3 separate regions of the Homo sapiens genome follow, and all the other regions are reported to be linked to region 2. The links are microRNA targets in miRTarBase. Many come from high-throughput screens and were not tested one by one. Region 2 holds a microRNA gene; each other region holds the end of a gene's coding sequence.
What was found. Region 2 holds the annotated microRNA hsa-miR-186-5p (CAAAGAAUUCUCCUUUUGGGCU, at 5,809-5,830, shown strand). A microRNA usually pairs through its seed, bases 2 to 8, with sites in the 3' UTR of a target mRNA and lowers its output. Matches are read on the target gene's strand: a 7mer-m8 pairs with bases 2 to 8, a 7mer-A1 pairs with bases 2 to 7 and ends in A, and an 8mer does both.

Region 1: miRTarBase lists BEND3 as a target of hsa-miR-186-5p. Seed matches in the 3' UTR shown: 7mer-m8 at 3,890-3,896.
Region 3: miRTarBase lists TSPYL4 as a target of hsa-miR-186-5p. Seed matches in the 3' UTR shown: 7mer-A1 at 5,808-5,814 and 7mer-m8 at 5,199-5,205.

Annotation. Positions count from the first base shown.
Region 1 is chr6:107,062,250-107,069,694 of GRCh38, forward strand. BEND3 (BEN domain containing 3) reads right to left here. Exons shown (of 4, transcript NM_001367314.1): 4 at 2,933-7,445. The coding sequence ends at 6,455. Among named protein-coding and RNA genes, the nearest start is that of MTRES1, 38 kb to the left of the region's middle. RefSeq lists an enhancer at 1-3.
Region 2 is chr1:71,065,407-71,073,510 of GRCh38, reverse strand. It overlaps MIR186 (microRNA 186), which reads left to right and starts at 5,795; the gene lies at 5,795-5,880. It overlaps ZRANB2 (zinc finger RANBP2-type containing 2), which reads left to right. Exons shown (of 10, transcript NM_203350.3): 5 at 963-1,039; 6 at 1,256-1,390; 7 at 2,515-2,684; 8 at 4,149-4,235; 9 at 6,577-6,735. It overlaps ZRANB2-AS1 (ZRANB2 antisense RNA 1), which reads right to left. Exons shown (of 3, transcript NR_038420.1): 3 at 6,327-6,745. RefSeq lists a silencer at 4,959-5,008.
Region 3 is chr6:116,245,986-116,253,430 of GRCh38, forward strand. TSPYL4 (TSPY like 4) reads right to left here. Exons shown (of 1, transcript NM_021648.5): 1 at 3,979-7,445. The coding sequence ends at 6,779. NT5DC1 (5'-nucleotidase domain containing 1) reads left to right here. Exons shown (of 12, transcript NM_152729.3): 12 at 1-3,512. Among named protein-coding and RNA genes, the nearest start is that of TSPYL4, 4.4 kb to the right of the region's middle.

The DNA of each region.
Region 1 (7,445 bases), not on the chromosome of region 2:
ACAATTGCTATAATTATTTAGAATTAGCTTGATTCTATTATTTTATTTTATTTATTTAGAGACAGTCTCACTCTGTCACCCAGGCTGGAGTGCAGTGGCTTGATCTCAGTTCACTGCAACTTCTGTCTCCTGGGTTCAAGCAATTCTCCTGACTCAGCCTCCTCAGTTGCTGGGATTACAGGTGCACGCCACCATGCCCAGATAAGTTTTTTGTGTTTGTTTCATTTTTTGAGAAAAGATCTCACTCTGTCGCCCAGGCTGGAGTGCAGTGGCGCCATTTCGGCTCACTGCAACCTCTGCCTCCCGGGTTCGAACGATTCTCCTGCCTCAGCTTCCCGAGTAGCTGGGATTACGGGCATGCGCCACCATGCCCAGCTAATTTTTGTATTTTTAGTAGAGGTGGGGTTTTACCATGTTGGCCAAGCTGGTCTCAACTCCTGACCTCAGGTGATCCACCCACTTTGGCCCCCTAAAGTGCTGGGATTACAAGAGTGAGCCACCGCGCCCACCCTAATTCTATTATTTACATTCATTAGCTCCCAAGGCTCTGTCATTGAAGCTTAATTCTAAAACAAGCACTCCTATATCTAAGATCAGACACACTGGGGCTTAGAGGATGGGAGTGATAGACACCACTGCTGACTTGCAATTGTTTTAGGATCTGAGTCTTGTGTATTGTGGCTTGGGTATGATGGAAATCAGAGGCCAACTTGGGCTCAAATCCTGGCACCGCCAATTTCCAGTTGTGTGAACTTGAGCAAGAAACCAACTTCTCTCCTTACCACAAAACTGAGTTAATAACAGTGACCACAGCAATGAGTTTTTATGAGAAGCAAATGAGATAATGTAGACACCATTTGCGTCCCTAGCTTTCTTACCTGTTAACAAGGCATAATTATGGTACTTACCTCACAAGGCTTTTGAAAGGATAACACGTTGCCCAGGTTCCATTCTTAGCAGTGTCTGGCACATACAATATACTCAAGGAATGTTGGTGCCATCCCAGTCAGAAGCAATGCTTGTTCTTTCCTTTCTCCACCACTGGCCAGATATTCCAAATTTTTTTTTTCTTTTTTTGAGATGGAGTCTCACTCTGTCGCCCAGGCTGGAGTGCAGTGGTGTGATCTCGGCTCACTGCAACATCCACCTCCCAGGTGCAAGCAGTTCTCCTGCCTCAGCCTCCTAAGTAGCTGGGACCACAGGTGCTCACAACCACACCCAGCCAATTTTGGTATTTTCAGTAGAGACGGGGTTTTACCATGCTGGCCAGGATGGCATCGAACTCCTGACCTCAAGTGATCCTCCCGCCTCGGCCTCCCAAAGTGCTGAGATTACAGGTGTGAGCCACCACGCCGGCCCAGATATTCCAGACTTATCTGAAAGCTCCTTAGAGTCCACTGCATTTCACCATTCCAATGATCATGATAATCTGGTGTCGAGTTATTATTTCTGAGAACTAGATCTTACAAGTATACTCTCACTGAAATACTCTGTGAATGTTCTTTTTGGAAGAAGACAAAGATACCCACAGCCACAAGAGTCTCAAAGAATTTAGCTTTTCCTCACTTCTTGCTTAAACTGGCTAGTGGATTTAGCATTTGGAGGTTCAGGTCCAGCACCCAACCAAGGCACACCTGCTGAGAAGGTTTACAGCACAGATGTGCTGGCTGTATAGATTTCAAGGCTATCAAATAAGCAAATACTCACTGTAGTAAGTGTTTCAATCACGAGCCACCAACTACTTTATATCTTCTGATCCCTGGGCCAAGGAAGTTTCTCTGACATCTTGAGATAGAATTTTTACTCTATATGTTATATATATATAAATATATTACATCTAATGTATAATATTATATATATTTAAAAATATATAAATATATATATTTTTTTCCTTGAGACAGAGTTTCTGTTGCCCAGGCTGGAGTACAGTGGCATGATCTCGGCTCACTGCAACTTTGCCTCCCACGTCCAAGCGATTCTCCCACCTCAGCCTCCCGAGTAGCTGAGATTACAGGCATGCACCACCATGCCTGGCTAATTTTTATATTTTTAGTAGAGATGGGGTTTCACCATGTTGGCCAGGCTGGTCTCAAACTCCTGACTTCAGGTGATCCACCCACCTTGGCCTCCCAAAGTGTTAGGATTACAGGTGTTAGCCAACGCACCTGGCCTAATTATTACTATAAAATATTAAGTTTAATGATTTATAATTAGCCAAAGAGAAGAGAAGGTGAGGGAAAACATCCCTTTTTACAAATAATAATACATGAGGCCGGGCACAGTGGCTCACACCAGTAATCCCAATACTTTTGGGGGTTGAGGTGGGAGGATTACTTGAGGCCAGTGGTTTGAAACCAGCCTGGGTAACATGGTGAGGTCACATCTCTACAATAATAAAACTAGCCAGGCATGGTAGTGTGGGCCTGTAGTCCCAGCTACTTAGGAGTCTGTGGCAGGAAGATCACTTGAGCCCAGGAAGTCGAGGCTGCAGTGAGCCATGATTATACCACTGCACTCTAGCAGGGTTGGGGCGGCGGGAAACTAAAACCCATTTGATCCAAAGTGAAAAAAAAAAAGGCGGTTAAATGAAAATGAAACTCTGCTGGCTTTGCAGGACTGGCCTGGCACCTGACCAGGAAAGGTTAAAAAAGGTCAAACAAGCCTCCCACTACATGGCCAGGAAGTGGTTTGTGGAGAAATGGTTTGGAGGATTTATCTGGCAATTTCTCATTCATTCAGCTGTGGCCAAACTGAAATCCTATGAGCTGTACCCCTGACACGTAGAGTATGGAAGCCCCAGAAGCTGAAATCCCCCGGAATATTCACGTTCTTCCCTGGGAGGTGGGTGAGGAGGCCACGCACAAAGACAAATAGACCAAGACATATTCTGAGAGACCAGTGCTCTAAGAAAATAACATGTTACGAGACCATGTTTTTCTATTTTTATAACATTTTATATAACTCATAAAACAGTGTTTGTATAAAAATTCACACAAAGTTGCTAGAGAGCATACAATTTCCAAAAATGTCCTGGGTTTTTGTTACATTCAGTTTCCTAAGGATGCACTCCAATCTATGGTAAAATGCAGACATGATGCGAGATTTCATTATCTTTGGTAAAACTATTCTCATTATTTTGTCTCCTCACAGTATTAAGTCTGATATCCACTTTGTGCAGGGTCTGCTATTACTAGGATGTCAGAAAAACATTAAGGCTGGATCTACGAGAGGCAAGTATTTCCCAACAGCAGTAATAGCCCCTTGGCCCTCACCCCCACTTCATGTATCTATACAGTCGATCTACACAGCCAGGCGGGGTGCAAGCTCACGACCTCCACTCGGGAGTCTCGAGATCCCCTCTTGACTGGGAAAGAAGCAAACATTTGTGGGGAACGTTGGAAACGGAGGCCATCTCTAAATGAACCCAGTGGTCATGCTGTGGTGTGGTCAGACCAGCAACTTTTACCAATTAAATAGCCAATCTATTCACCACTAAGTAGATCCCATTGGTTGGTTGGTTGATGATTGCTGCTGATGTGGTTCCCCACTCCCCACAAACATAAAAGGAAAGGAAGGTTTGGAGCCAACACCGAAAGGGGAGGGGCACGCTAGCGCAAATGACACCAGACACGACTTTATTCCCTGTCAAACATTTGTTGTCCTGTAGACACAGCCAAGGTGAACTGAAGGGGGATGCGAACACTCAGTACATTCGTGACTATCTTCATACATTCTTTAAAAACTTACAGAGAAATCAATGAAGACTACCACCTACTGTGACTTACTAGTTCATTCAACATCAAAACGTGTCTGTGCTAATCTTTTAGTCCTTGGGATACAAGGCCAAAAAAAAAAAAAAAAAAATCCAAAAAACAAACAACTAAAAACCAAAGAATTTAGATGTGGGGGAAGGAAAGCGACTGCCAACAGGTTTCATGGAACACATTAAATTTTGAAAAAATAAGTATTTTGTACTTCTATTGCTTCATGTAAAAAATTTAAAATAAAAAAATGCCCACTGGAGCCACCTGTATGGATGGAGAAGTGAGGACACCATACAGACAGGGCAAGGACCTGCAGGCGTTTCCTGACGACAGTCCAGAGATGGTGAGAGTTCCCACGTGTGTCCACTTCTCTTCACAGAAAGGGACTGTAAGATTCTGGGGGAAGATGCCCTACACATGTAAGGTATTAAGAAAATCACTGAAATACGGTTTCCAAAAATTGAACATGCTCTGGGTTACAAAGAGACATATTTAATTCCTAGAACCTGTTGATTTCTCTAACAGGGGTAGATGGGAGTTTCAAAAAAATTATTAATAAATGATTGTGCTTCTAAAGTTGCAGGGTCAACATTCCACCCTCTAGAAAGCAGGGCAATTCATGGCTTGGAGTCCTCGTTTACATCCTAGAAACCAGAACAAATTCCATGGGACCTCCCGCCTCCAGCCCCCAACAACCAGCGGTGGGAAGGGGGAGGTGGTGGGAGAGGGCCACAGCTGTCTTTGGGTAGGGTGCGTGTGTGTGCATGCTGTGTGCATGTGCTGGAGAGACTAAGGCATAGAGAAGGGCCCAAGCGAGGGGGGAAAGTGAGTCTCCTGGCTGCTCCAGTCCCTCCTTTCCAGGCACAAAGAAGTTGAACTTGTTATTCGTGTAGGCCCCCTTCATCTCACTTCAGCTTTTAGTAAGCAGTGCGTGTGTGCATGAGTAGCTGTGTAAGACAGAGAGTCATTCAGTCCCTGTGCCTTTCTAAATCTGTTTGCAGTTTCAACAGAAATAATCTGTAAATGACACTTAGGAGCAAATTTACTAGTTAGATCAGCAACTTAACATTGCTTTTAAAATCCTGTATTTTAAAAAATGCTCCTGGGTACAGGCAAAATTATGTCATACAGCCACTGGAACTGAAGTTCTTATCAGCTGAATGAAGAAAATCCAGATTGTTTCTGTTATCTCTGCATTTTAAAGTAGCAAAATATTAAGCCATCCCACAGGGGTTCTATGACTACCCTGTGTGATTCAATAAATTTTCCAGGACTCTGGTATGACACACTGTTTGCATTCGACTGTTTCCTTTCCCTCTTAAGCATTTGGCCCCCAGAGTTAGGTAGGTAAAAGTATCATTTTAAAGGACTTTACCTGTCAGGGGATTTCCCAGTTGGTGCTCCTGGAGAGCATGCAGCTGGCCTGCAGGAGCCTGACATTCCCAGTCGGGAGGGAACGAAGACATGTGCCCCCCAAGGCAGGGGGTGGCCAGGTATAGGACAGCAGGACCTTCTAGAGAGTCCAAGAGGAAAGTTCTGAGTGGACCCTGGGAAGGGACATGTGTACCCCATCTAAAATGGCCTGTGTCCTTCCAATGCATGGTATCCCCAAGAGGGGCCCAGACCTGGGCCCGCCCTGAGGAATGAGGATGTAGTACTGCCTGGAGTAGCTAACACTGAGGTCTGGGGAAGTCACCACAAAGCTCCCGGAACCTGGATTTTGTACAAATACACACACGGAAAAGTAAACAGTTCATGGTGAGCTCAAAGAGGCCCACCCTTAAATCTAACAAGAAGCCAAAAGCCCCTGCACTGTTTTCCAAGGAAACATGTCCACTCCCTCCAACCAGCAACCATGTATGGAGAAGGAATGGGGGCAGCGGAAGGACACGGCTCAGATGGAGACACTGCGAACGTGTTTCCACGGCTGTCTACATTCATATCATCATCATCCAGTGTTCTCGCCTAAAGAGTGACACAACATTCTACCAACGCGCCTGAAGGACAGGCCAAGCTGAACGGAAGCCTTCCCTGGCACCAGAGCAGAAGGGAAAACTTGCATGTGGTCGTAAAGGACTTCGCACTATTCCATCCCCTCTACTGCCATCCAAGGGGCATCTTGACTCTTCCAAAATCAGATGTAAAAAACAAGGTCAGTAAAATCAGTATCCATGCCACCTGAAGCTATGATTAGCCACTGTGCACGAACATGGCACTTTTAAAGAGATTTTTTTCTAAGTAAAATGGCCCCCAAAGAGCCCAATGATTTTTTTTAAGGGTTTCTTTTTAATTAAAAAAAAATGGGTCAAAATGGAAGATGTAAAATATGGGAAGAGGGGCAAGAGAGTTGCTGGGTTTGCATTATAAGCTGTGAGGGGCTGGGGAGGGCACAACCAGGGAGAGAGGACCCCTAACCTCTGGTCCCTGCCCTCACAGCTTGCTCTCCCCACACTCAGGCTGCCCCGCCGGGGCACATAGGACAGAAGTTGTAAGTACAAGAGACCAAACTCAAGGCTTCTTTCTTGCGGTTGGGTGGGTGTTTACGTGTGCAAATGTAGTAAGCCACTCCCCACGGACATAAGGTGCCTGTCTGTGGATGCCATAGGCGTGCTCCCAAGTATTGCTCAGTCCCAAGGGTGCCCATCGCTCAGCCTCTGGTGACCCCGAATCTCTGGGCAGGTCACGGGCCTTCACTTCTCCACTTTCTTTGCTTTCTTGAGGATGTCGCATTTTTTCCTGTTGGGGCGGCGGCACCTCTCATCGATGCTGGGGATACATTCGTAGTGCCACACCTCCTCCATCTTCTCCACCGGGTAGACGGCTTCCACGTAGTGGCGGATGAGCCGCAGCCGCGTGGGGTCCAGTTGCTTCTTGTTGCAAGCCCCGGAATGGTTGTACTGCAGCCGGAGGTTCTCGGCGGTGAAGAGTTCGGGAAACAGGCGGACGAGGAGCCGGGCGGCAAAGTTGCCCACGGAGAGGCTCTGCTGCACGATCTCACGCACCTCCTTGTCAGACAGCAGGTAGGGAGAAGGCACCGGGAAGTCAGGCGAGGGGACCACCAGCTCGTCCAAGGGGATCTTGCAAAAGTCCTTGCTGCTCCTCTCGGGGGGCAGTGGGGGCCCCTCAAACTCCTCCCGGAACCTCTCGGGGTTGATTGCATAGCTGGTCAAGTCTCTGCACTCAGGGCCCGGCACGTGGACCTTGCGCTGCTGCTGGTAGGAGCGCCTTTGCTCCGTGTCCCGGCGCCGGCAGCGCTCATCCAGTTTGCCCACGAACTCCAGGGTCCAGACGCGGTCGTTTTTGGCGCGTGGGTAGAGCAGCTGCACGTAGTGGCGGATGAGCTTGATGCGGGAGGGGTCCAGCTGCTTCTTGCCCAGGGAGCCGCTGCAGTTGTACTGCTTGCGCAGGTTCTCGTGCGTGAAGAGCTCGGGGAACAGGTGCACCAGCAGGCGCGAGGCGAAGTTGCCGATGGACAGGCTGCTCTCGTAGATGCTGCGTAGCTGCTCCTTGCTGAGCAGGCAGTCGGCACCGGGCACCTCGAAGTCAGGCTGGGGGATCTCTAACTTGTCGAAGTCGATGGGCACCAGCCAGATCTTCTTGGAGCGGCGACCCGGCCGCTCGCCCTCGAAGCTGTCCTCCACCTTGACCACTGAGATGTCGTCGGGCAGACTGGAGGAGTCG
Region 2 (8,104 bases):
TGATAGGCAAATTTTAAGTTACAAGTCCTAATTTTTATAAAATATTTTTATTATAAATCTATTTAATATTTTGCTGATGAATGAAGTCCCTAAGTCTGGAAATCACCGGCCTTATTGTACTGATACTGCTCTGGAGTATGTGACCAGTTAGATTGTATTACTCTTGATCAACACATACCTCTTTAATTTTCAATGGGAGACTTTTTCAAAATATGTCAACTCACTTTTCCTAAAACTAGCTCATTTTCTTTAATTCCAGTCTCTCCTTTAAGCTTATGTCAGAGACCTGCCAATTGAATTGTATACATTGGTTGTGACATGAGAGAATAGTGGTTTGCTAATCTCAACTACTTTTTAATAGAATCATTTAATTTCAAAATTTACTGGCTACTTCAGAGAACCTGTGTGACTTTTACCTATGTGTTAAAACCAATTAAACCAGGGCCAAAGGATGGCCTTTATTGTGTTATTGTGTTTGTCTGTGTAATTAGGAATTTTCCAAGCTCTAATAAGGCCTGCTACATTTTAAAGTAGCAAAATTTCAGAATATCAGAAGATTTCAGACTATTTGCAGTTGGTAAACAGTGGAATTTAATGCTTGGTTGTTACTGAGCCCACCCTTCCCAGAAGAATTACGATTAACTGTAGAGGAAAGTCCTTTAAAACTTGGTTATAGCAGAAGTTTGAGATGTTTTCCACCAATACTTTCTATGAATTAAATAAGTCATGTAGGGCAATTTGGAATTGAAAAGAGCTAGAAGTACAGCCATATGACGTTACAACTAAGTTCTCTGTATTTTCTGTGGTGATTTCTAATATGCTTTCTAAAGACTAGTAATTTATTAGATGGGTAGGCAGCCATTGTTGATTAGATGTTTTTTGTTGTCTGGAGATTTGGGCATGATGTGTTTATTATTTAAATCAATTGTCATAGGGTAACAATTTGTGCCCTCTTTTTTAAGGATATGGTGGTGGTTTTAATGAAAGAGAAAATGTTGAATATATAGAAAGAGAAGAATCTGATGGTGAATATGATGAGGTAAGCTATATTTTGGTGTTCAGGTTGAATATAAATTAGAAAAACAGAAAAAATTCTTAAATGCAAAGGAAAACAAACTTTTTTTTAAGTGCAATTTGAGTCTTCAGCAACTGATCATTTTCAGGAAATCATAAATATCTAAAATAATTTTTTAGAAAATGTATTAAGTTTAATGCATTATCAGCTGACAAGCATTTTGAAATTGTTTTTCTCTAGTTTGGACGTAAAAAGAAAAAATACAGAGGGAAAGCAGTTGGTCCTGCATCTATATTAAAGGAAGTTGAAGATAAAGAATCAGAGGGAGAAGAAGAGGATGAGGATGAAGATCTTTCTAAATATAAGTTAGATGAGGTGAACAATTTTCTTGTCCTATTTCCCTTTTGTCTTATTGGAGTTATACCATAACATGAATGCTTTTGACAGCCTCAGACACTTGGTGAAAATATATTCTGTGTTTTCATTTGTTCTCACAAAGGTTTTGGATTTCCACTCTGCCAAGTACTATTTGTACTTGGAACACTACTGTTCTGGAGATACAGTGGTGACCGAAACAGAACCAGTTTTCTCTTACACAGTTCTAGAGGAGGAAATATATAAATAGGTAATTTTGATAGCAGTAACGTTATGAAGACACATGATGTGATAACAGTTTAAAAGCAACTTTGGTTTTGCCGATGGATAATGTCTAAGGAGGTGAAGTTTGAGCTGAAACTTGAATGATAGGAAGGAGCCAGCAATAAGAGCCGAGGTGAGAGCACATTTAGGCAGAGAACAGCAAATACGGGTTCCCTAAATAGGAGATAAGCCAGCAGCCTTCAAAAATACCATACATAGGCCAGTATAGTTAGAGCAGAGGGGAGAATGAGATGAGGGGGACAGCACACATTTCAGGTCTGGTGATACTTGTTCTGTCAGGCCAGAGTGTAAGTTTTATGCCATGTTAAGGGTACCTTAGAGCCTGATCATAAGAGGTCTTGGAATGCAACTAAAGAAATAATAAGCCAGTTTTGAAGTTTTTAAGAAAAAAGTGAGATGTGTTTATCTGTCCTGTGTTTCAGAGTGATGACTGTCAGTATATTGAGATACTAGAGAGGCAGAATGGATCTTCAGATTTGAGGAGACCAGCTAAGAGGTTACTATAATATGCTAGAGAATAAGGAACAGAGTGTCTAAGACTAAAAATGGTGATTTCAAGGACTTTTAAGGAGGTGGACTTGAAAATTCTTGGGTGATGCATAAGTGTGACAGAAAAAGTGTGTATGGCCTCCAGGTTTATGTCTGTGCAATACCTGAGACAAAGTTGTCAAGTCTCTATTTGAGATGAGTTTAGTAGGTGAATTTTAGAATTCAGAATTAATTTGCTGAGATACCTGTGATATATGCATATGGAGGTGCTCAGTACACCTAACTGTTTTATCTTTCCTGGTAGGTAACACTAATATCTAAATGTCTAATTATAATTGAATTTTTGTTAGGATGAGGATGAAGATGACGCTGATCTCTCAAAATATAATCTTGATGCCAGTGAAGAAGAAGATAGTAATAAAAAGAAATCTAATAGACGAAGTCGCTCAAAGTCTCGATCTTCACATTCACGATCTTCATCACGCTCATCCTCCCCCTCAAGTTCAAGGTCTAGGTCCAGGTAAACGGGTACAGGTCAAGGGTAACACCAGTCAAAATGTCAGTATCTAACTTTTTTATTTATAAATTTTGTTTTTCTTGACGAAATAAACTTTCCTTTTTATTTTAAAAATTTAATTCAAATCAACTTTTAAAATAATTTTTCAGCTTAGTACCATACAGTTGTTGTCCAGTATTTTTAGAAAAGTAAAGTCTTAGCATGAAACTTCCTTAACCTATTTTAGCCTCATGCTTTTGACTAAAATAGACTTAAAAACTGAATTAAATTTTTATATACACTTATATTTAATTAATCTAAAGAGATAGCTTACATATAGAAATTAAGTAAAGGGGAGATCTGTATTTTCATTCAAGATGTTAAAGGCTAGCACAGAAATTTTCTAGGCATTAAATCATTGCTTATTACATAATGTTTTTAATAGTTTGCTTTGATATCAGTATTGTGAATAACGGAGCAAATTCAGCCATATTAGTTCTGTTGACTTCATGCTCATAATTTTGAGAAGTCCAGGCGTAAACTAAAACTCTTTTGGTGTACTTGAATATTGTTTGTTGATGTAAAATATGTAATCTCTGATTTTATAGTTAACAATAAAAATAAAATTTTAGGTGAGTGAAAGCAGTGATTTAAATTTAACAGTGTCCTCTTGAAAAACCTTAATCACAGTTAAGTGATGGCATGGGCAATGAATTTTAATCATATTTAGGAATAAAATACTAGATATTAGTGTATAACAATTAGATATATGTTAATTGAGCACTACAAAGCCTGAAAGCTTAACAAAGTGGGGCTATAACTAGTAATTTTTTGGTAAAAATATAGTGATCTTTTTCTACAGGGTATTATTATAAGGGACAAATTATAGTTGTAAATTAGATTAATGAATTTTGTGAGTTTTAAAATTTGTACGAACCATGTCTCCCTTGTGTCATATTTTCCAATAATATAATTACCTAACAATGACAGAATTATACATTTTCCCTTTAATTCTCTAAGCATTGAGTAAACAGAAAAATATAGGGATGAAATACACACATGCCAACATTCAAAACTTTGTACTAACTAGAAACAAAAATAGAAGGGGATTTATAAAGGAAAATGATGGAGACATTTTAGAGAAATTAAGTATAAATCGCAACATTCTGTTTTCTTGGATGTATTCTGGGTAGCTTCTAGTTACTTGTAAACAAAGTATTCATTGTTTTTGTAATAAAGTGATAATGTTTTGTTTTATAGTTGAGTGGCTTTAGGGTAATTTAATCACCTGGAAAGTGATATTTTTTTAATTACCTTTTGTTACTAAATCTTATCTAATTTAAAATACTATGTTTTGAAAGTATATATCTTGTATAGTTATCTTTTTATATGAAAATGAACTCTAATACATATCTTTCTTTCAGTGTTCATATCACAAAGCTCAATTAAATGGTCCTGGAAAAAAAAAATCGTTCCATGTTGTTCCAGGTCCCGTTCAAGAAGTTCTTCCAGTTCGCAGTCAAGATCTCGTTCCAGTTCCAGAGAACGTTCGAGATCTCGTGGGTCGAAATCAAGGTGAATGAGGTAGCATCTCTCTGTAAAGCAGAGAGAAAAATATTTAAAGGCTGCAGAAGGTGTTGCTGCTTTTTTTCCCCTTATTTTGCTTCTACTTGTCGATTTTATTTTAGCATTAGAAAACTAATGCACTTGCCTCAGCTTAATTTTCTCACCATGAAATGTTTCCATTGCCAGCAGTGTGCCAAGACATTCCCATGATTGAAATCAGGTGGCTATTTTGCAATATGCAGCGTTTATTATTTTGGCACTAAGATGTTATGAAGTAGGAAGATGAAGCCAAGTCTTATCGCCACATCTCTAGTATATTAAGATTATATATGGCCAGGCACAGTGATTCATGCCTATAATCCCAGCACTTTGGGAAGCTGAGGTGGGAGGATCACTTGAGGCCAGGAGTTCAAGGTTGTAGTGAACCTTGATCACAGCACTGTAATCCAGCCTGGGTGACAGAGGAGTGTCTCAAAAAAAAAAAAAATTAATAGTAGTTCAAATAAAATTACATATGTAAATAAAAAGAAAAATTTTCTTCATTATTAAAAGGAAGAAAAATAACCCTGCCTCAAAACAGGTCCTGTTTTGCACGGCAGTTGTTTCAATATTTTCAGAAACAAATTTGCCATTTATATCAGATAAAGTTACTAGAGTACTGTATATACATTTTCCTTTCTAATTTTACACACGCTATTATTTATAGAGCACAAAACACTCAAAACTAAATCAGGAAGTATAGTCGGTTAGTTGAGATAGGATGTGGTCTTAAGTAGTAAACAGTGTTCTAAAGTTTCAGGTTGCATGTAGTCACATCTGTAGAGGGAAACATAATTTGAAAGATGCTCTTGCAGGAAATTTTTCTTTGTTTAGTCAAAATATGCTCTCTTTGTTTTTAAGTTAATTTATTATGACCTAAAGGCATCTAAAAAATAAATAAGAAAATGAAATTCCATATTTGTGGAAATTCATATTGAAGTCTAACTGTGGCTGTTTTGGTAAAAGTATTTGCTGCTTTGAATCAAATTTAGCATTAAAGGGCTGCCACAGTATAATCATGTTAAGGAGAAAAGAATGTTGTGCACACTTGCATTATAAGCCAATAAGAAATAGATAACAAGGCCAGGCTCAGTGGCTCACGCCTGTAATCCCAATACCTTGGGAGGCCAAGGTGGGCGGGCTGCTTGAGCCCAGGAGTTCAAGACCAGCCTGGGCAATATAGTGAGACCTCGTCTACTAAAAATAAAAATTAAAACAACCAGCCAGGCATGGTGGTGTGTTCTTATAGGCTGAGGTGGAAGGATCACTGGAGCCCTGGAGATTAAGGGTGCAGTGAGCCATGCTTATGCTACTGCACCACAGCCTGGGGAACAGAGCAAGATCCTGTCTCAAAAAAAAAAAAAAAAATAGAAGTAGAGAGCAAATTATTTTTTATTGTTACCATTATTTAGTAACAATATTTAAGCGCTTTATAGGTAAAAATCCTTAAGTTCTGGTATTCCCTTTGGGAACCATTATAATTAAGGTTTACAGAACACCCATCATATTCTTCCCAAACATTTTTTCATTGCTTGTAACTTTCCAAAGAATTCTCCTTTTGGGCTTTCTGGTTTTATTTTAAGCCCAAAGGTGAATTTTTTGGGAAGTTTGAGCTAAATTCCTTCAACCAAAATATACAAGTGAAGAAAAAAAATTTGTATTTAAACATTTGCACATTTACTTCTACCTGAAGCATGTGAATGTCAACACTTCATATTTCATAAGTAGTGGGTTTTCATAAAAATAGTATTGTAAATATAAATCATCTTAAAGTTAGTTTTTATTTCTTCTTGAATATTTAGCAGTTAAGTACAGTTACTAGTCTTTTGTTGCTGTGCCATATACCTGGTTTTTCCATAACAGTTTAATGAGTTGAATAATTCCACATGGAATTATGTTTATTTTCCTCAGGAAGTGGTATATAAGATACATATTTTAATCCTCAAATGGAAGGATGTAGTTCCTAAACGTAAAGTCCTGTTAATGCAGTTATCTGCTGATTTTATAATACTATAATATTTGTGTATACTTTGAAAAGCCTTAAAAAAAGTTTAAATTCTATTTTGATATAGTAAGCAGGGTTTTAATTACACATGATAGAATTTTAAAGAGACAAAATTAAAATGTTTAAGTAGAATGTTTTCATGGTTGATCCAGAAGTCTTCTGTTGAATAAGCAGTAAGTATTCTTCCTTATAAAATTTTCATAGTTGTTATAAATCCTGTTTATTTTTGGAGCTATCTGATAACTAAATAATCTTCCTTATTTCTTCTTTTAATGAAATGTTTGATTTGTTTCTCAATCAATGAAGATCCAGCTCCAGGTCCCACAGGGGCTCTTCTTCCCCACGAAAAAGATCTTATTCAAGTTCATCATCTTCTCCTGAGAGGAACAGAAAGAGAAGTCGTTCTAGATCTTCTTCATCTGGTGATCGCAAAAAAAGACGAACAAGATCACGGTCACCCGAAAGGTTTGGGTTTCTGTAGAAATAAGAATGGGTGTTCTTAAGTGTGTTTAATAGATAAAGTAAACTTTCCTAGTCAAGGGTTAGATTTTTATTATCTCTTGTGTTCCGACTTTCTACTTTTCAACTTTGAACTTCAAAAAAACATTACTTTGCTTATCCTTTGTACTTTGATCAGGTTGTTTAGAATTGTAGATCAAACCATTCTTTGATCATTTTATTGTTTAAATTTTTAGTTCCATTTATAATTTTTATAGCCAACTCTCGGTTATTTCTGTCTTTTGAGATTGCAATTCAGAAGCTGTATGTCGAAGTAATTTATGAGTTGACTTTTATACTTAGGCTTCTTTAAATACTAATAGTCAAGAATTCTAGAGCATCTAATAAAAAATTAACTTTCAGATCATTGGGAATCTGTCCTCATTTAAATATGTGTAAATGCATTTCCACAGCAAATTGCTTCATGCCCTTTGTCTATAAGGAAATTATTCCTTGTAGCTAATACATTTTTCATTTTGCAGTCCAAATCTTTTTTGAGAAAGGCCTATATTAGGTTACTTTATCTGTACTGACACTTTTAATATTGGAAGAATGCAACTGTCATCTGTCAGCCTTTTCTGCAACAGGCTAATTACTCAGTTTCATTAATTTTCTCTTTGTTCCCAATTATATAGTCATTTTAATGGCTTTATTTGTAGTCTTTGCAAATTTTTCATATTTTATTAGCTTGTGAAAATAAAGATTATGTAAAGTCTATTAATTGCTGGGTTCAGTGGTAGGATTATCTCATGATTCCTACTTGTACAGAATGATTAGTTTTGCTTCTTCACATTTTGGAGTTTAGATGTTAAGATTTCACACAGTCTTGTTTCTCTGCATTTGTTTCTTTGTAAAAAAAATTACTCTGTTTTTGAGTGGAATTCATTCTGTTGCTTTCTTACCACTTCTGCAAATTTTTATCTTAGCCACATATAATCCCCCTAGTTTGTTGTCATCTAAACTTAATGAACATGTTCTCTATTCCATAAGCCAGGTGATTGGTGAAAACACTAAACAACCCTGAGCCCAGGGCCAACCCCTACGGAACACCACTACTTTACCCAGGTTGATATTGACTTATTCATACTAGCTGCATGAATATAACCCTATAGCAAATTGTACAATCATCTTGTGTGACCTAGATTTCCAAAACTTATTTATGAGTATATTTTCTCATACACAGAAGCCTTGCTGTATCTTTTTTACATAATAGACTTCTTACACTTTCTACACCGTGTCACAGGGATTGGTTTAGTCACACTTCCATTACCAAGTTTATATGCTTTTGTTGTACATTTTCTGTAATTTTACACATTTTTGCAAGGCTTTTCTTTGA
Region 3 (7,445 bases), not on the chromosome of region 2:
CTTCTAATGAATGTTTTTTTTCTGTAATTAGAAAGACTATAATTAGGCTTTTTAAATTTGTATTTTCATTCTTTGTAAAGAGTGCCAATGGATATGAAGATTAAAAATAATCCAAATCCATAAAAATTAAAAAGAAAATATTAAAGAAGTTATATGAAGCAAAAAAATTGTATAAATGGACAGAAGACATGTAATATTCGCATACAGGCAAACATTCATAATCTAAAGGACACCTAAAAATAGATGTAAGCGAGCGGAGGTTTTCTTTGCTGGCCACTGTTTATCGCATCAGCAGAGGAAAGATCTGAATGACTCAGTGACCAAATGTTTTGTCAGAATCTGGTATTTGGAATACTGAGGTAGTAAAAACTTTATCTGAACCATGAATTACAATCTAAAATCAACTTCTGAGTTTGTTAAACTCTAAACTGAAATCAAGTATTATTTCCCCACCAATATTCATATCCAAAAATAACTTTAAATACACACACACACACACACACACACACTTTTAGTGAACTGGTTTGAATGAAAATAAATTTATATAATTATTTTATATAACAAATCAGCATAAAATGGAAAATCAAACTGCCTCTCTAGATATAATAACCTTCACTGACTGTTGGAAATACATGGATAGCTTTTTAAAATCTTCAGTGTTGGAGTAACAGTCCCTTACATCTTTTCAGCCTCTTGAGTACAAGAAGACTATCATAAGAGTTAGTTCCAGATTGGTGCAAGACTGGAATACACTTGACTGCTTTTATTAAAGCCATGAGGGCATACCAAGTAATTCACCCAGTATGGTCTTATTGCCACCCTTGAAAATCCCTGGGCATGGTCCAGTCCACATAGAATGAATTCAGAAAGGTGTCTCTTGTTGGTCTCTAGAACTATCCTCAGAAATAATAGTAAAACAGTGGTCATGAGTAGCCTCACTAGGCTACTTCATGTACATTATCTTGTTTACTCTCTATAGCAACCATATGAGATGTATATAATTATTAAATTGTACAGATGGGAAAATTGAAATTCAGAGAGATTAAATACAATGCTTGCTCTGTGTTACACTGTTAGTAAGAGAGCAATACATGAACCCAAGTTTGATCCTCAAAATCACACTTTTAATTACTTGATACATAATGTCTTCCAATATTGAATCTAGACTAGGGCAAATTCTCAGCCCAAAACCACACTTCAATTTAGCAATAATGTCGTGCTAGGACATGAGAGGGATTAACATTGAAGACACAGCCTCTATCTTTAAGTAATTCATAATTTAGCCAAATATATTAAATATCTGTAATATAAAACTTACCTAGGAAAGTAAAATAGAGATCCAAGAATCAGGAGTCCTAAAGCATATAATGAGTCTGTTCCTCTTGGAAGCCACACATGTCAAGGTCATCAGTAAGCAGGCCTACTCTTTCTTCATATTCTGGGTTAATGTTCACCTTGACTGCTTGGTAAATTTCCCTCACTGGTGCTGAAGTAACCAAAATGGGGAAGGAGTGATGAAAACTCATCTTTGAGTAAGCTTAGTGGGAAATAGTATATCTGGGCCTATAGAGAAGTTGGGTCATTACTTAGAATGACAACTGGAAAAGTACATAGACTGCTTGCCAATCAGTTTGTTGTACCATGTACCTGTTCACAGACTCTTTTCAAAAAACAAGTTTATTTTACTTTTTTTGGTACTTTGGTCATGTTGTTTCCTTGGTAAAGATCAAAGTTGAATAAAGCTTAACAAAGTTTAATAAAGAAAAGGAATAAATTACTATCTAAATGTGTTAAAAGCAATCACCAAGTTTAATCACTTAAAAAATAAATATTCTCTTAACAGAAATGTCAGCGGTTACTTACAATGCTTAGCAGCTAAATTCCATGAGTATAACGTTTAATGTCTTTTTGGTACATTAAATATTCAGTGCCTTTGATGAAGGGAACAAACTGATAATTTCATTCATGTGCAGCAAACATCAAGGTTACATAAGTAAATTCAAATGTGTCAATCTGTAACTGTATGGAGTCCTGTATTAAATCAAGTGATAAAATGTACCCTTCTCAAAGGCTATTCATGAATAAGCATAACCTTCAACTGAGGCCTGAATAGTCATGTGTCAGTAGGGTTTTTGTTAACATTTGTATGCCAAATTTATTACGATAGCTGTGATAGAGTAGAAGTTATGCTAGCTTGAAATCAGAAAACTCAACAGTGAGACTTGCATCTTAGGCAGTTCTACTTTCTGGACCTCTGTTTTCTCAACTATTTAAATGGAAATAATAAAACTTGTGTTACAAGGATTATCAAAGTAATATGTGCACTTCGAAGTGCCTGACATATCTCAGATCTTTTGAGGAGATTGTGAAGCCAGGGAATAAGTAACTGAAACAAGATCAAATATCCATGTCTTAAATTGTGATTCTCTAGGACAGGGACTCAGTAATTAAAAATATAGGCAAGGGTTTGTTTTGGTTTTTGTTTGTTAATGATGAAAACATTTAAGGACGTTGAGTTAACTGGAGATAAAGCAGCAGCACGAGGAGTAATGGGGAGAAGGGCCTGATGAGAAGGTCAGAGAAGCCTTTTATAAGTGTCTGGCTTGCACTGAATGCCCAGAAATGGAAGCGCAAGGAAAGTGTTGTGTGAGGACCAGGGTAATTATGCAGTGTCACCACTACTCACAGGGATTATGGCCTGAGAAACTAAAATGATACTTCTTAGGTGACCAGAGGATGGGAGAACTTCTTAACTGGTTTGGAGGTCCACATAAAGAATAATTGGGGTCTAGAATTAAGGAAGGAAAAGCAATACAAAGAAATGGAGCAGGGCTATAGCAGTGAACCAATTGGTTGGTAAGTGAAACCTGTAAGATGCCTAATTGAGTAATTTAATGACTAATTTTATTAGGCTAAACAGAACAGAAACCATGCTAATCTGTAACAAATAAGTGGCGCCAGCCTATTACAGTGAATGCTATTGGTTAGACTAAAGCAGATAATAAACCAAGTGTAGGAAAAATGACATTTTCTGATTACATCCAGAACAGGCATAGAAAAGGTATAATAAAGCTTGAAACAGGTGGCTGACAATGCAGAAATCAATCACTGAACTGAAAAGGTAAAATGAACATTGTTAGAGGAATTTAGGATTAAGATGGATGTAGAGCTTGCAAAAGAAAACCTAGCTCTCTAATACTTAAAGTTCTCTAGCCCTAGAAAAAAATACCTCAGCAAGAAATTGCAAGTAATAATTGCACCAAGAGTCAGCATCTATTTTAACTGTATGTTTAATTAAGTTTCTAACTCAAATGAGAAATTTTGGGCCATTTTTGTCAAATTTTTGCTTAGATGGCTACAAATACTTAGCAATTCATTTTCATAGATTTTGTAGCATCCACAAAGCCCTCCTTACTGCAGAGAATGCAGAGGTATTTATCCAATAAACTTTCATGTAATTGCTGCTATACAGCAAAACTATCATTACCGGTAATTAAAGTTGTGATACCTGATATCATTTGTCTCTAGACATTTTATTTCATATTTTCTTGGTATTCTTTTTAAAGCCACACATTGGTGTAAGAAAAGAATGTTAAGTAGCACTGACAGAATACACAATAATTAATTCTTCCAAAAGTCTATCTTAAGCTTATTAGATCTCGGAAGGCACAGTTAATAATAAATGTAATGAACAAGGATGCTGCATAGACAAGTTTTCCACTGAAAACAGTATTTTAAGTGATACTATATGGTGCTTCAATTACCACCAAAAACTGCACTGGTTATGTAGAAAAAATAATGCTCATGAGTATGCAGTTGCAGTTGGGCTCCCATTTACCATTTTTCAGGTGAAAAATCTTGGAAGGTTTGGTGGCTGTTGCCTTTTTTTTTTTTTTAAACTTTCAGGATGATAGTTACTGGTATCATTTGATAACTTTAATGATTTCCCAACCTTAAATTAACCTAGACAACACAGAATTTTTTAAATTATTTTTATTTTTTGATGAAAACAAGAAATACGGTAGTGACACTTTATTTTTCCTTCAAGCACATGGGAGAAGACAAAAGTACTAAATGATCATTGAGTTTGACAGAGAAATTCTACTGGTACTTACACTGCTTAGGAACATAAATGTCAAGTACATTACTAGGGCAAGAAATATCAAGTAAGACAACAGAGTCGTATTTTTCTTTTTGAGGTTATTTTCACAAGACATAGCTATAATTTGTAAAATATTCAGACTATTGAAAGATCACATTCAAATTATATTTCTAAGAATAGAGCCATATATGAACAGAGAGCAAAACAAGCTAATACATTAATGAATATTCACTGAATTCTTCATACTGCACAGGACACAAATTTGGTATTTTTGCACATGTTGTCAATTATAAGCAAAAAGCAGGCCTGTAAACATCAATTTTGTCATAGGCTGAAACAGAGAAAGGAAATGGATTTTACTCAAAAACAGTGACATAAGGAGCATATACCATTAATCTTCCACACATATAAAGGTCACTCCTAGGATAATTGAGAGAAAACATCGACTTACATTTTGTTTACAAAAATCTACTGGTGAATTCAAGGACTTAGGAAAAATTGAAGGAAAATCTTCCTCCAAGCATGCTATTTAAACCCCAGCCCCTCTTCCCTGGAGAGCACCTCAGGGGCCTCCCCTCCCACCCCTGATCCTGCAGGTTCTTTCCTGTGAGCCTTTCCAAACCCACGCCACAGCAGGCTCATTCCTGCTCTGGACTTTTACTCAGTTTCCCAACCTAGATTAACCTCTCCACTGTGTGTGTTCAGACCTCCTAAACCCTCAGGTAGCTTAGGGCAAGGCCTTCAAAACCAAAGGGGAAAAGGGTGATGGTGGATGGTCTTTATCACCACACATGATCATAACTAAGCCTTGACGGCATCACTGTCCCACCTACTGGAACTTGTCCGTGAAAATCCACACAGATGCTGCACATCCCCTTATCCCCTACAAGGAGGCTGGAGATCTTCCACAATGCAGGCTGCAGCCTGCTTCTTCATTTGTTAGGAGCAGGGAAGGAAATGCAGAAGCTGAGAAATGAGGGCCAAGAAAGCCAGGCAGTAGGATGGAGACCCAAGGGACATCAGGGCAGAAACAAAATAGTACAAAGGAGAAGAGTGACCTACAAAATGCTACCCTAGAAGCAGTCCAAGGCCCAAAAAAGAATTTCCATCTTTAGAAAAGTGGAGTGAGGCTAAGTTTTGGTTGCCTTTGCTCACATCACAAAGGCCTTTGCCTTTGACCCGTCCTGAACCCATCACTGTGAGGCCCTTCTCTCTCTTTCCAGCTTCTCAAACTAAAAACTCAAGAAATACACAGGTTTTGGTAGAATGGATGGGGTAAAAAGATAAATATGTCAAAATCTGCCTAATTTAACACTGCCTATAACTAAACAATTAACCTATAGGTCTCCCTTTGAAACTTTCAGACCTTGCTAAAAGAAGTGGGGTGGAGGAATAAGGGCAATAAGAGATCTGGAGCCCATTTAATCATAACCTTTCTCTCTGAACACAATCAGGGAAAGAGCAAATTAAACAAAAAGCCTGCTTTGCCAGTTTTGTTTTCTGTTAATAAGCTAAAACTGCTTCAGAGTGAAAGGGAAGAAAAGGGATGGGAGGGAGAGGGGGAGGGAGAGGGGAGGAGGAGGGAGAGAAAGAGACAGAGGCATAACAAGTCTCACATTCCAGAAATATCTCTTCCTCAATGCCCCAACTCTGGCAACTTTTGTCATGTTCAGAGTGGGTGCAGGCGGGGAAAAGAGGAAATGCCTAAAGAAGTTGCTCACATTAAGGATGGTTTGTTGGCTAGGAGTCAGAAAGACTAAGCTGGAAGGGACTGCGTTCCAGCCTTGCTTTGGGCTCTGTCACATATTACTGCCCATCCTGGTGGTAGGGGGTGTTGCTGTGAGCTCCCTGGGAGCTACGTCTACAGATAGTTCCTGATGAGGCAGACAATGGTGGCCTAAGCAAAGTTCAACCAGAAGGTGAGAGTGAGTAGGGGTGGGCTATAGCACAGGCTTCATACTCACCAGCAGCTGGTCATGACGTAGAGTAACCAAAGGTACAGGAAAACCAATGTGATAACATAGAACACTTTTCATCTATTACCTCAGTCACGCCTAGCAGTCACCCATCAGCCACCAGCTTGTTCTATCAGATAACCAGTAGGGTGGATGGCACAAGCCCAGGAAGGCAGCTGGGATCCAGTTGGTGGTAGTCTGGAATGTCCAATTTGGGTTGATGGCCGGGTTAAGATATCAGTTTTGTCTTGCAGTGGTAATACCCAAATAGCTTACCATAAGTACATGGGTATCAGGACACAGCCAGCATAAAGTATGAAGCCCAATCAGTTATTTGTGAAAATGTATCAAGATTCTTTGTGGTACAGAACCACTTAAATTGGGAGAAGAGCATGGTCACAGATAGGGTCCAAGCCATGCAAAGAAAGGCAGTATGGTACACTATATCTATAGTATCATACGCTTGGCATAGAAGCCGTAGAAGGCCATGCACTTGAAACATGTTAACACAATGCAGAAAAGCATGAAGGCCCAGAGGAAGAATGGCACAGGCAGGTAAGCCAACAATCTTGCAACCGATTACTGAAGATTTAGAACCAAAGGAAAAGATAATCCACAGTATGAAGAGAAAGCAGATGGAAGACTGCATGCTGTTGGCCAAGCATAGGTCCAAGAGGAGGTGGTAAGGAAACTTGTGCAGAAGCTTCTCACAGGACAGAGATTAGCCAGACTGGAACCTGAAGGATCTGGCGCTCTCCACTGGCTGCCTTGGTGGGCCTCGAATTCCTCTACGGGGCCCTTCACCCATCAGGTAGTATTGTAGGGGATTGGGCCACAGTTCTCCTTTGATAATCTCTGCAATTCTGTCGAATTCTAGAAGGCTGTGGTCTGAAAACCAGTTGAAGAAACTAGGGATAGTGTTCCCTTCCCGGTTTCTGTGGATATGAGCCTGGGGGTCTTGGCCTCGGTGCCAGCGGATTGGAGTGGAAAGAGACACCACCCGGCCAGAGGATCTGCGTTCATATTCCTTGACAAGCCCCTCATTTCGGAAGTAGGGGTTGCCCTGAAAGATGAACTTGAATTTGCAGCCTGCTCTGGGGTGTTTAAGCTCCTCCACCTCCAAATTGATCATGTACCTCAGCATGTCTTCATCTTGGCCACTGATCATAGGTGACAGCTGGGGGTGGTTTCGAAAGGCAGTAACCCAGAAACCTGGGATATTCTGGATAATGAAACTTCTGCGCTGCATGTGGAGCCTTCGCATGCGGCCAAACTTGCGCTCAAGCTGAAGGAAGGCCCTGTCAGCCTGGGCATTTACGTTTGACAACTCTTGATCGATGGCCTCCAGTGAGTCCATGCAGTTATTGATCTTCGGGGCCCTGGGCCGT